Linked DNA regions of Homo sapiens. The protein of the gene in region 3 purifies or fractionates together with the protein of the main gene of each other region. This does not show direct contact. Each region holds a gene or a part of one and is shown on either strand. Other genes may lie near its edges.

The links.
Region 1: the proteins of EPM2A (region 3) and ANKMY2 purify together in Homo sapiens (affinity purification with mass spectrometry, with the first as the bait; one large-scale study listed by BioGRID). This does not show direct contact.
Region 2: the proteins of EPM2A (region 3) and CLUH purify together in Homo sapiens (affinity purification with mass spectrometry, with the first as the bait; one large-scale study listed by BioGRID). This does not show direct contact.

Annotation. Positions count from the first base shown.
Region 1 is NC_000007.14:16,600,709-16,604,361, forward strand, and holds part of ANKMY2 (ankyrin repeat and MYND domain-containing protein 2), read right to left. Parts: intron 1,802-3,653; coding exon 1,672-1,801; intron 238-1,671; coding exon 53-237; 3' UTR 1-52. UniProt on the Homo sapiens protein: May be involved in the trafficking of signaling proteins to the cilia.
Region 2 is NC_000017.11:2,705,137-2,708,789, forward strand, and holds part of CLUH (clustered mitochondria protein homolog), read right to left. Parts: intron 3,381-3,653; exon of another isoform or gene 3,363-3,380; intron 2,640-3,362; exon of another isoform or gene 2,605-2,639; coding exon of another isoform or gene 2,037-2,604; intron 1,515-2,036; exon of another isoform or gene 1,498-1,514; intron 1-1,497. UniProt on the Homo sapiens protein: mRNA-binding protein involved in proper cytoplasmic distribution of mitochondria.
Region 3 is NC_000006.12:145,624,671-145,627,539, forward strand, and holds the end of EPM2A (laforin), read right to left. Parts: coding exon 2,746-2,869; 3' UTR 1,055-2,745; coding exon of another isoform or gene 1,025-1,054; 3' UTR 635-1,024; downstream 1-634. UniProt on the Homo sapiens protein: Plays an important role in preventing glycogen hyperphosphorylation and the formation of insoluble aggregates, via its activity as glycogen phosphatase, and by promoting the ubiquitination of proteins involved in glycogen metabolism via its interaction with the E3 ubiquitin ligase NHLRC1/malin.

The DNA.
Region 1 (3,653 bases), on a different chromosome or scaffold from region 3:
TTCCAGCTTCTTGCAGGGTGAGGATCATCCACACTGGCACTTGCTCTGGCTTTTACTCCTCAGACACCTGTGGCCCTGCAGGAGCATCCTGTAAGCCTTCCAACTCAGCTTCGCTTTCAAGAGATTCTTTCTTTCCTTCCCCGGAATCTTCAGGATTGGAATCCTTTTGAGAGATACCTACTTCAGCCTCTGGTTGCTCTTCATTAACACAGTTAGAATTGACATCAAGTTTGCCGTCTGATTAAAAAAAGAAGAAGTTATTTTGTTCCTACCATGTGTCAGACACTCTTCTCAATGCTTTACATGTATTATTTAATCTTCCTATCAACTACATGAGGTATATTAGTATCTCTACTGTCATCGCTAACGTTATTTTACAAATGAGAAAACTGAGAAGAGAGAGGTTTGGTAGCTTGCTGCAAGTTTCCTGGCTAGTGAAACAGCAGAACCAGCATTTGAACTCAGGCCGCTGGCTCCAAAGCCATCTCTAAATCAAGATTGTTGCTTGGGATTTGACAAAGCCTGTATTTGAATACAGCTTTTCTGTGAATTTATTTGATGTCCTTGGAGAGGTAATTGCCTGCATGAAGTTGTTTCCCTTGTCTATAATATGCAGGTAATAAAGGCTATCCTACATTGGTGAAGAATAAAGTTGTCTGTAACATTTAGAGCAGTGTTTGGTGCATGAATGATGCTTAACAACTGGGAGTGCCCATTCTACTGACAATCTTATTCTCCCTCAATAGTGTGTTAGTAATGAACATTTGTTACTTTCTGTCCTTAGCACATAGAATAAAAAAGTTTGGTCAAGAAAACAAGAGAAGGCATGGCAGTCAGAAAGCCTGACTATTCTCTTAAGGATAAATGGTTTAATTGTGTACAAACCATTTAATTCCACTGAGAGTATATCTCAACCCAGTAGTAAAGCGGATATGGTTCCTTGAGAGATGGAGGCAGAAATGCCTGGTATCAGAATAACCGAGGCATCTTTTTCAAATTACATGCACTCCCCCAGAACATATGATACATTCTCTGGAATGAGGCATGAGGGTGGGGGCAGTTCTCCTCTCCAATCTGATAATCACTGCTGAAGCAACTCACTATTTCTGATGAAAATGGGTCACAAAACCTCAAGAGGGATGGAGAAAAAAAAATACAAAATTCACTGCTATGACACTTGTAGAAATTTGATCTGTATATTAGATCTGCAATTTAATGAATGATTTATAAATATACTCTGTAATTTCACCTGTAGTTCTGAAATTTAATTAAGGAATTTAAAGGCTTCCACCCTTAAAATCTTCTGGTAGCCATTAGTGGAAATTTAATTAATTCCCTTATTCAAAGACTTTAAAATCCTTCATGAGCAGAATATAAGTTAATACCCATTAAGGGTCCCATTGTTCCAGGGCAGTAACCTAAGCTAGAATGTAAAATATGAAATAAGCTACATCCCTCAGAATTTGATGTCTCTGTTTTCCAGTGATGTCCAGGCTGACTATATCCTAAGAACTTAAAAACGGGACACATTAAAATTTAAATGTGATTCTTACATCGGTCACTCCTGAGCTCCTATGGCTTCCAGAGAAGACGCAGTTTCAGTGTGTTAAGATCACCTATCATCTCTCTCTCCACTAAAAAGCAGAGTGAACTCGGTTTTTATATACATACGGTTTTCCTCTTGTCTCTTTTCTTTGGCAGCCTCCAACTGTTGCTTTTCGTAAATGTCCTTCAGATTCTTACAGATTTTCTTATGAGTAAACCAGTGTGTTTTCTGGCAGGTTTGATCACAATATATTACCTGAAAGCAATTGTTGGTTTATTTTCATTTCCAGAGCTTGGGTTGTATGATTTCCTAACTATGACTAAACCAAGAACTAAGCTATAAAAATGTCATTTTCCATACTTTATTTTAAAACCATAATATGTGGTTGATATAGTTTGGATGTTGTCCCCTCTAAATCTCATACTGAATTGTGATCCCAAATGTTGGAGGTGGGGCCTAGTGGGAGGTGATAGGATCATGGGGGCGGTTTTCTCATGAACAGTTTAGCACCCTTCCCTTGGTGCTGTCCTCACAATACTGAGTGAGTTCTTACAAGATCTGGTTGTTCAAAAGTATGTGGCAACTCCCCCACCTCCTCTTGCTCCAGCTCCTGCCATGTGACATGCCTGCTCCCCCTTCACCTTCCACCATAATTGAAGGCTTCCTGAGACCTCACCAGAAGCTGAGCAGATGCCCATGCCATGCTTCCTGTATACCTTCAGAACCGTGAGCCCATTAAACCTCTTTTCTTTATAAATGACCCAGTCTCAAGTATTTCTTTATAGCAACGTAAGAACGGCCTAACACAGTATCTTTGTATTGATTTAGATTTATAGTTTGTAGCTTTACTTTAAAACAATAATGAATATATAACAAACAGTCTACCAAAGACTTTAGCAAATAGCTTATTATGAACCCGCTATGTGCCAGAATTGGTACAGTACAATGACAAGGAAGATAGAGTTGTCCCAAAGGTAGCTAGCATCAAGAAAAAGAAAGATATGGAAGAAGGGAGAGAGGCAGGCACCTAAATACATAATTTCTTAACACAGTACAGGATGTAAGAGTGATGGAGGCATAGAGGAAGCAGCAACTCACTCTAGCTGTGGTGAGTCGAGGTAGACAGAAAAATGGGAAAGAAGAATTCTAACTGGAGAAAATATCTAGTACAAAAATGCAGGAACAGGGAAGTGAATGATATGTTCAAGAACAGCAAGAAGTTTTTGTAAATGGCCTTATATTTTTGCAAGTAGGGGTGGAAAGGAGATGGGAATGAATGTTATTAAACACTTACTGTATGCCAAGCACTGTGGTAGGCCCTTATACATATATTGTATTATTGGCCCCAATTCTTCATTCATCCTTGCATTCATACACTTTCTCACATGATTTCAAAGTTCTCTGCACTGAAGGGGAGGAGACTTGACTTCAGATTGGGCCATGTAATTTGTTTCAACCAACAGCATGAAACAACATGGCAATTTCAAGGCTAGTCCTTGAGAGGTCTTCTGTGTTTCTACCTGCCCATGTGTACCTTTGCTATTGCCATGACAACATGCTCAGCCTAGCCTGCTAGTACAAGAAGGATGAGAGTCACATGGAGCACAACTGCCCCAGCTGAGAACAGCCAACCACAACTGTGAGAGAAAGACTAAATGATTATCATTTTAAGCACTGAGTTTGAGTGTGTTTTTATAAGCAGTAATAATTAACCAATATAAATAGTTTGATTTAATTCTGGAATTTCATTTAATTCAGGAAACAGGTTCAGAGAAGTAAGTCATTAAACAAGATGAAGCTGAAGAAGTAGGTCACAGCAGATTATAATGGGTTTCATACAACATGCTGGAGAATTTCAACCTTAAAGTCAACAGGCAGTTGATGCTACCTATGGGATTAAGTGAATGTACGGACACATGCATGTGTCCAGTATCTGGATATGAGAACAACACAATCAGATATGCCTTTTACAAAGATAATTCTGGCAGAAGGGGGCAGTACAGTCCATAGGGATTAAAGACTGGTAACAGTCAGAAACTATAGTTTTACAAGGATATGTTGATGAAGACACTGTCATTAAAGTCAACATCAGAAGAGTAAAGAATGT
Region 2 (3,653 bases), on a different chromosome or scaffold from region 3:
CAGGCATCAACATGTGGCTGTCCCTGAGGCATCACTGAAGCCTCGTCTTGCAGGGACAGAACTCATCTTCCTCCTCAAACTGGCACCTGCTCTATCTAGTCACCCACCCTAAATCTCCCAACCCACCCACGGGACCCGGCCTCTGCAGCCACTGCCCTAGGGCAGGCATTTCCTCTATTTCAGCAGTGCCACCTGCAACCCTCCTAGGAAGCCCACTGCTTACAAGACCAAGCTTCTCAGGCCAGCGCTCTCAGGCACCCACCTGAAGTCAGCCTCAGCTCCTGCCTGCTCCCTGCTGAGGTCTAAGGACACCACACCATGCAAGCCTGGTACCGCCCACAGCCCTCCCACCGCCCTCCCACCGCTGTGCTTCTGTGTCTGTGCTGCCCCTGACATCCCATTCTGTACAGCAAACACTGACTCACCCTTCAAGGCCTAGGAGAAATAAACCTTTTCCACAGCCTGCCCAAATGACCCTTAATGGCAGAATCACACTCCCTCCCCCTTTCATTCCCAGAGACATTCGGCTGCACCCAGGGTGGCGTCCTCACCAGCAGCTCTACCCACCACCTTCTATCTTGCCCAGGCTCAACAAAAAAGGCAACAAATAAAGTACTTACTGCAAACCTCTAGCTACATCCAATATTTGAAGACAGCACCCAATCCACATGCTCCAGGGTGGGGAGCAGGTGACAAAACCTTGCATTCCTACCCAGGCACCAGTGGAACAAAGGAGAACCCCCTGTTCCGCTGAGGAGCCAAGGATCGCCTCTCAGTAACCCTCCAGCAGACACGGGCCTGCCTGGGCACCCATCTAGGAGATGAGGACCTTGGCCCCCAGGATCTGTCCATGGGCCAGGCTCACCTGCCTGGCTTGGCTTGAAGTTCAACGGTCCCAACTCTGAGGAGTGCCTGGGTTCCCTTCCAGAAAGAAGAGCTCGCCCAGCTCTGCCCATCCCATCTAGACCCCACCTCCCCTTCCCCACCCGGCTCTCAGGAGCGGGGACAGGTGCCTTTCCCAGAACTGTGTGGTCCCAATCCGGACCCACCAGAAACACGGAGCAGGAGCCTCAGGGAAGGGATGAGGCCAGTACGGAAAGGCAGAGACCGGGGGGCCTGGAGAGAGTCGCTCCCTTTCCCTGGATCCCCACGAGCAAACGAGAAACAGGACCTCTAAGAGCTCAGAGTCTCTTCCCCCTTACCCCAAAGAGGGGTATTTGAAGCCCAGAAAGGCTCGGAGCCTGGCCTAAGGTCAACCAAGTCAGAATGGGCCCCAGACTCCCTCCTGCAGCCCGCACCCTACGCCGCGGCACTCCCTCAACTCTGGCCACTGAGGACCTTCAGTAACTGTGCATGTCATGGCTCTCCACCCCACCCTCTCCAAGCCTGCAGTGGACTCCCAGGAACCACGAGGATGTACAAAGACCTCCCTTCCAGGATCCAACCGCCCCAGGAAGGGCACCCCCAATCCCCTCGCACGTGAGCAGCCCCACACACCTGCCTGACTCTAGTGACAGAGCAGAAAGACAGCCGGGGCGGTGGTCGGTCAGCTTGCAAACAGCAAGAGGCAGGGCAGCCAGGTGGAGGAACTGCCCCCACAGGGTCCCTGAGAAAGGCTGTGCTGGCTGCCAAGCCCCTGGAATAAGGGGAGAAGCAGGAAGGGCCCCCACCCAATATAGAACAGCAGTTTTGAGCTATGAGATCCCAAAAGTGGGGAGTCAAATACCTAGACAGAGACAGCCTGTGTTCTTTCGCATGTCTGGAATGGGAGGACAGAAAGGAGGGACGACAAGGCAAGGTGGCCGCGGCTCCCACTCTCCTTCCCCAGCCCAGGGAGACGACCCTCAGGGGGTACCTATTCCCTATCCCGTTTCAAAGGAATGCAGCTGGCTCCCAAGGGGCCTCCTCTCCCCAGGACAGCATGTTTTACCCTAATCCTTCCTCCTAGGAACCCCGAAGGTCTCCCCACCCCTGGATGAAGGCTGAGCGATCTCCCCCGCAGGCAGCTGGCTGGCTCACCAGGTCCCGGTGCTCACCTGGTGCAGTTGGCAGCTGCCCTCCCCTCGGCTCTGGAGTCTCAGGATGGCCGTGGCAGCAAGGCAGCCAGCTCTCCAGCTCAGCCCCAGCATTGCCCGGGTTCCTTGTTCCAGCCTCTGCCGCTACCCTTGCCCTAATGCAGCCAGTCGGCCCGGGGCTGGAGCTCCGGCTGGCTTCGGGTTTCAGTGGGGCCAGGCCTGCCATGGCAGCCCCAGGAAGGGCACACTCCCCCTGCCTGGCATCCCGCTCAAGGTCGGCCAGAAGGACGGCTGTGGGCCAGGAGAACCCGGTGGCCCCAGGACCCCAGGGGGAGCTGCTATCAGCACTCAGGCCCACCTCCCTATGCCCCCTAGAGAGGGGGTCACTGCCGGCAAAGCCGCTAGGGGGATCGGAGAACCCAGAATTTGGGGTACCTGGACCCCTCAAGATTGAGGGCCTAGGAGACTGGCTGGCAGGGGCAGGGCCCAGCAAGGGGGTCCTCTCCTCCGCTCCCATCCCAGTGGGGGTGAACAGGACCGCTTCTGCCAGCTGCCGCCAACAGCTGGCACAGACCCGGGTCCAGGCCATAAGGTGGCTGCCTCTGCCCACCAGTCCCAGACACTGAGCACCCCACTGTCCCTGGGCCAAGGGCCTGGCTGGGACCTCTGGCTCCTGCTGCCCCCTGCAGGTGACCTGGCTGCCAGCCCCTTCCTGGGAGTCACTGGTTCTGGTGGAAGGGAGGGGGATGGGCCCCCAGCTTCCCAGAGGACAACTGCACCCGTGCCCCTGGCCTCCAGGCTCCATCAAGAAGCTGGCAGGCTCCATCTTCCCTTCCCAGCAGCCCCGGCTCTGCCAGGAGGGAACCAAGTCTCTCCCAGGGGAGAACAGAGCTGGCAGCAAGAGGCCAGTGGCCGCACGGCGGGGGAGGAGGTGCCCAGCTGGCCAGGGCGCCTTCCCAGGGCCTCTGACATGCTGCCAGTGCCCAGTAAGGGCTGCCCCAGCATCCACCCTACCCAGGGTGGGCGGGAGCCAGGCTCTCACTCCATCCCCTCCCCTCCAGGACCAGGGATCAGGCAGACCCTGGGCTGCTTCACAGCCCCCATGGAAGGTTCTGGGTCTCACACAATGACCAGAGGAGAAGGACCAGGCCTAGACAGAGCCCCTCTGCTCCTACCCTCTCCTGAAATACACCCTAACCCTCCGGAGAGAGGGGTGGGGCAGGGCAGCCTGGCAGTGACCCCAGAGAAGTGTTGACAACCACCTGCACTCTGATTACCACAGAGCCAGGACTCACGCTAGGCCCAGCCCACGGCAGCTCCCTAAACCGCCGTGCCAGCCCATCTCACCTGAGGAAACTGAGGCTCCAGAAGGCTAGGAAGCAGCTGCCCAAGGTCACAGAGGCAAGAGGAGCCAACCCAGAGCAAGAAAAAACCAGGTGTTACTATCACATTTGGGATTAAGTTTAAAAAAAAAAGGAAAGAAAAAACAGGAGTGTCAGACGCCCAAGCCCATGGCTTTTGAGTCACTCCCACTGAGCGCGGGCTACCCACCCGCTCCCACCGACCTGCTCCCGCCGACCCGCTCCCATGGACCCGCTCCCACTGACCCACTCCCACTCAGCGCAGCCCACCCACCCC
Region 3 (2,869 bases):
GATTCTGCGTTTAGCTCTTCAGTGATTTTTCATGTGTGGCAAGTTCCATTTCATTTCCTATTTCCTAACTCACTTTCAAATCTCTCCTTTCATTACTTTCTTATCATTTCCAAAGTCTTAACCACATTTTTCATCATTATTTCTTACACCAAGCCAAGTGATTTTTACCACACCTTAATGATGGTCAAAAGAGAGTGTTTTGTGTTGTGTTTTACATTTTTCCTAATGCTGGCAAGCAGAATGATAGAAAGATAATGTTTCAAGTCTGAAAGAAAACCACCTCATTCAGACTTTCCTTCACCATGAATGAGATCTTCTCATGATTGCCTTTGAGAAATCCGTGATTGAAAAGTTTTGTTAAACACCAGTGACAAGCAGCTAATGGCATAATATCTGCTTTGATTTTCTCAGACACACTCTAAGTTTTCATCCTCACTTCTCTGTGGTCCTTCACCTTTGACTTCCTTTATCATGTAACTGCCAATTTTGATCGTTTAATTGAAAGAGGAAGAGTGACAAGAAAAATAAACAATTTAGCTCAGTGGATTGCCCCCTTTACAAATAAGGAAACAAAATTTGTCCTTCTAGATTTCAGACTAAGCTGATAACATTTTAAAAATCCTGTACAGAAAGGTCTTTTTAAATGCTTTTATTTGCCAAAAGTTTTGGGTGATTTTGAAATACATTAGACATCCCATTCATTGAGGAAAAAGACAGTTTATTCCAAAACATTCTTTAATAGTCCTAAACTGATTTTGTCTATCAGAGCAAAAGGAACAAAGGTAAAAATCCACCTGAAAAAAGATCTTTGTATCATGGAAATTATGAAGCTGGATTTCTTAGACATTAAAGAAATTCACAGACCCACATAGTTTAAAAATTTAATTTTTAAGATTAAATTTTCACAACACATTATGACTGTAAATGAGTTACCTGAATACCAATTATTACCTCTAGTTATTTTTAGCAAGGGAGCTGGACTTCACTTTACTTAATGCTAGCTTATAAATTTAACTTTGTAAAATTATAGTGGAAATGTGTCCTGGCTAGCTGCCTCTGCCCAAAGCAAATGTCATCTCCCCTAAGTGCCACAGTTCTATCTCCCCGTCCTCTGAGCTCCACTGAAACTTACCTTGTATCCTTCTTGTCCCCCACGCCTTCTAAATAAGAGTCTCTTGCATCTATCAATATGTGTTTGTGGAAGAAAGGAAGGTGCAGAAAAATAAATACGCATCATAGTTTAATTAGGAAAGTAAGGGCTTTGAATCAAACCCAGCTTTGTATCTCACTTCATCTATTTATTCATCATGTGACAATAGACAGTTGAGTTAACCCTTCTGACCTTAGTTTCCCCATCTTTATCATGGAGATAATGAGACCTTCTTCATTGGATATTGTGAAGATTAAACTGGATATGATTATATATCACCTTGCACATAGAGGCTCTCAATTAAAAAAACACTTCTCTTTCTTCTATTCTAGCATATCATTCATGGTCCAATCCTGCATTACAGTTGGTTGAATGCAGGTCTGTTTCTAGGCAGCACATTTTTGAAGGCAAAGTTGTTCATCTCTGTATTTCCTGTAGAACCTAGGGTGATGAGCTGCATAGTCTGGAGGCACAGGAACTGCATATTATACTAAATTGAGAGCTGAGCCAGGATGGCCAAGGCTGTGAAGCAATTATCCATGGATTTGGTCATTTGGGCTCTTTTGGTAGTATAGTTCCTCTCATGAATTTCCACTCTGGTCTTAAAACAGCCCATCATGTTTTTAAATTAGCTTGCACAAAATACAACTAATTTCCTAGATTCTTTGGCAACTGATCAGAATACTATTCTATGTCTCGCTATAGAAACTCCTGCAGGCATATTGACTATACCCTGAGAAAGACAAAACTAAATGCACTACATGATGCTGGGAAAACAAGTTGTGATGAAAACAGTGCTGAGTCAAATAAATATAGATTATTAACTCCAGCTTGCCCTTGACTGGTCATGAGACCTTGGACAAGCTACCTATGCTCATTAAGCCTCAATTTAACTTCTTGACATCTCAACTATAAAAAACAAGGGTATTTTTTGCTTTGTTTGGTAATTTTGAGGAAAAACAACAACAAATGAGAGATAATTCTACTTTAGTTGTTACACAGGGTTGTTGGGTAGAGAAGGAAGGTGATGCCTTGGAACAGACTTTAACAACTGTGAGGCAGGATAAAAAACAAGTCCTGAAAGCCATCACTTTTTGACCATAGTGAGCTCTTCTTTTGTAACGGTTCAGGCTTCTAACCTTATTTCCTCCTTTGGCAACTGACCAGCTCACGCACACATACTAGTGATGAAATCCACATAACTCCATATCTTTTCCTCTACATGGCCAAGAGTTTCAGTGCAACAGGAAAGTGCTGTCACGGATCCATCGTGCAACACATACAGTGCTGTAAAGCAAAGGCCTCGTCTGCCTGCAGGCAGCAGGAACTGCACGCATTACCCTTCTGTCTGATGTACAGCCTAACTGCTTCGTGCTTCTTCTCATGTGTTGAGCCACAGCTTTCTTGTAGAGTATTTCAAAAATACAGCCCCAAAACAAAGCATAATCGAAAGTCATCCCAGGTGAAAGTGGTTGGCTTGGGGGAGGTCACACAGTCCTTTCAGTTCAGGTAGAATCCTTGTTTCTAGGTCATTTGACCAACATCATCCCAGGCTCCTTAGGGAAATCAGGAGGGGGCAGAAGCAGGCTGACCAGCTACAGGCTACACACAGAAGAACGAACCTTCCCAAATTTCTGGAAAAAATCTTCTTGTGCCCGGGCCAAGGCCTCTTCGTCAATGTAGACAGCCGGCCTCTTGGCCATGAGGAAATACTGCACC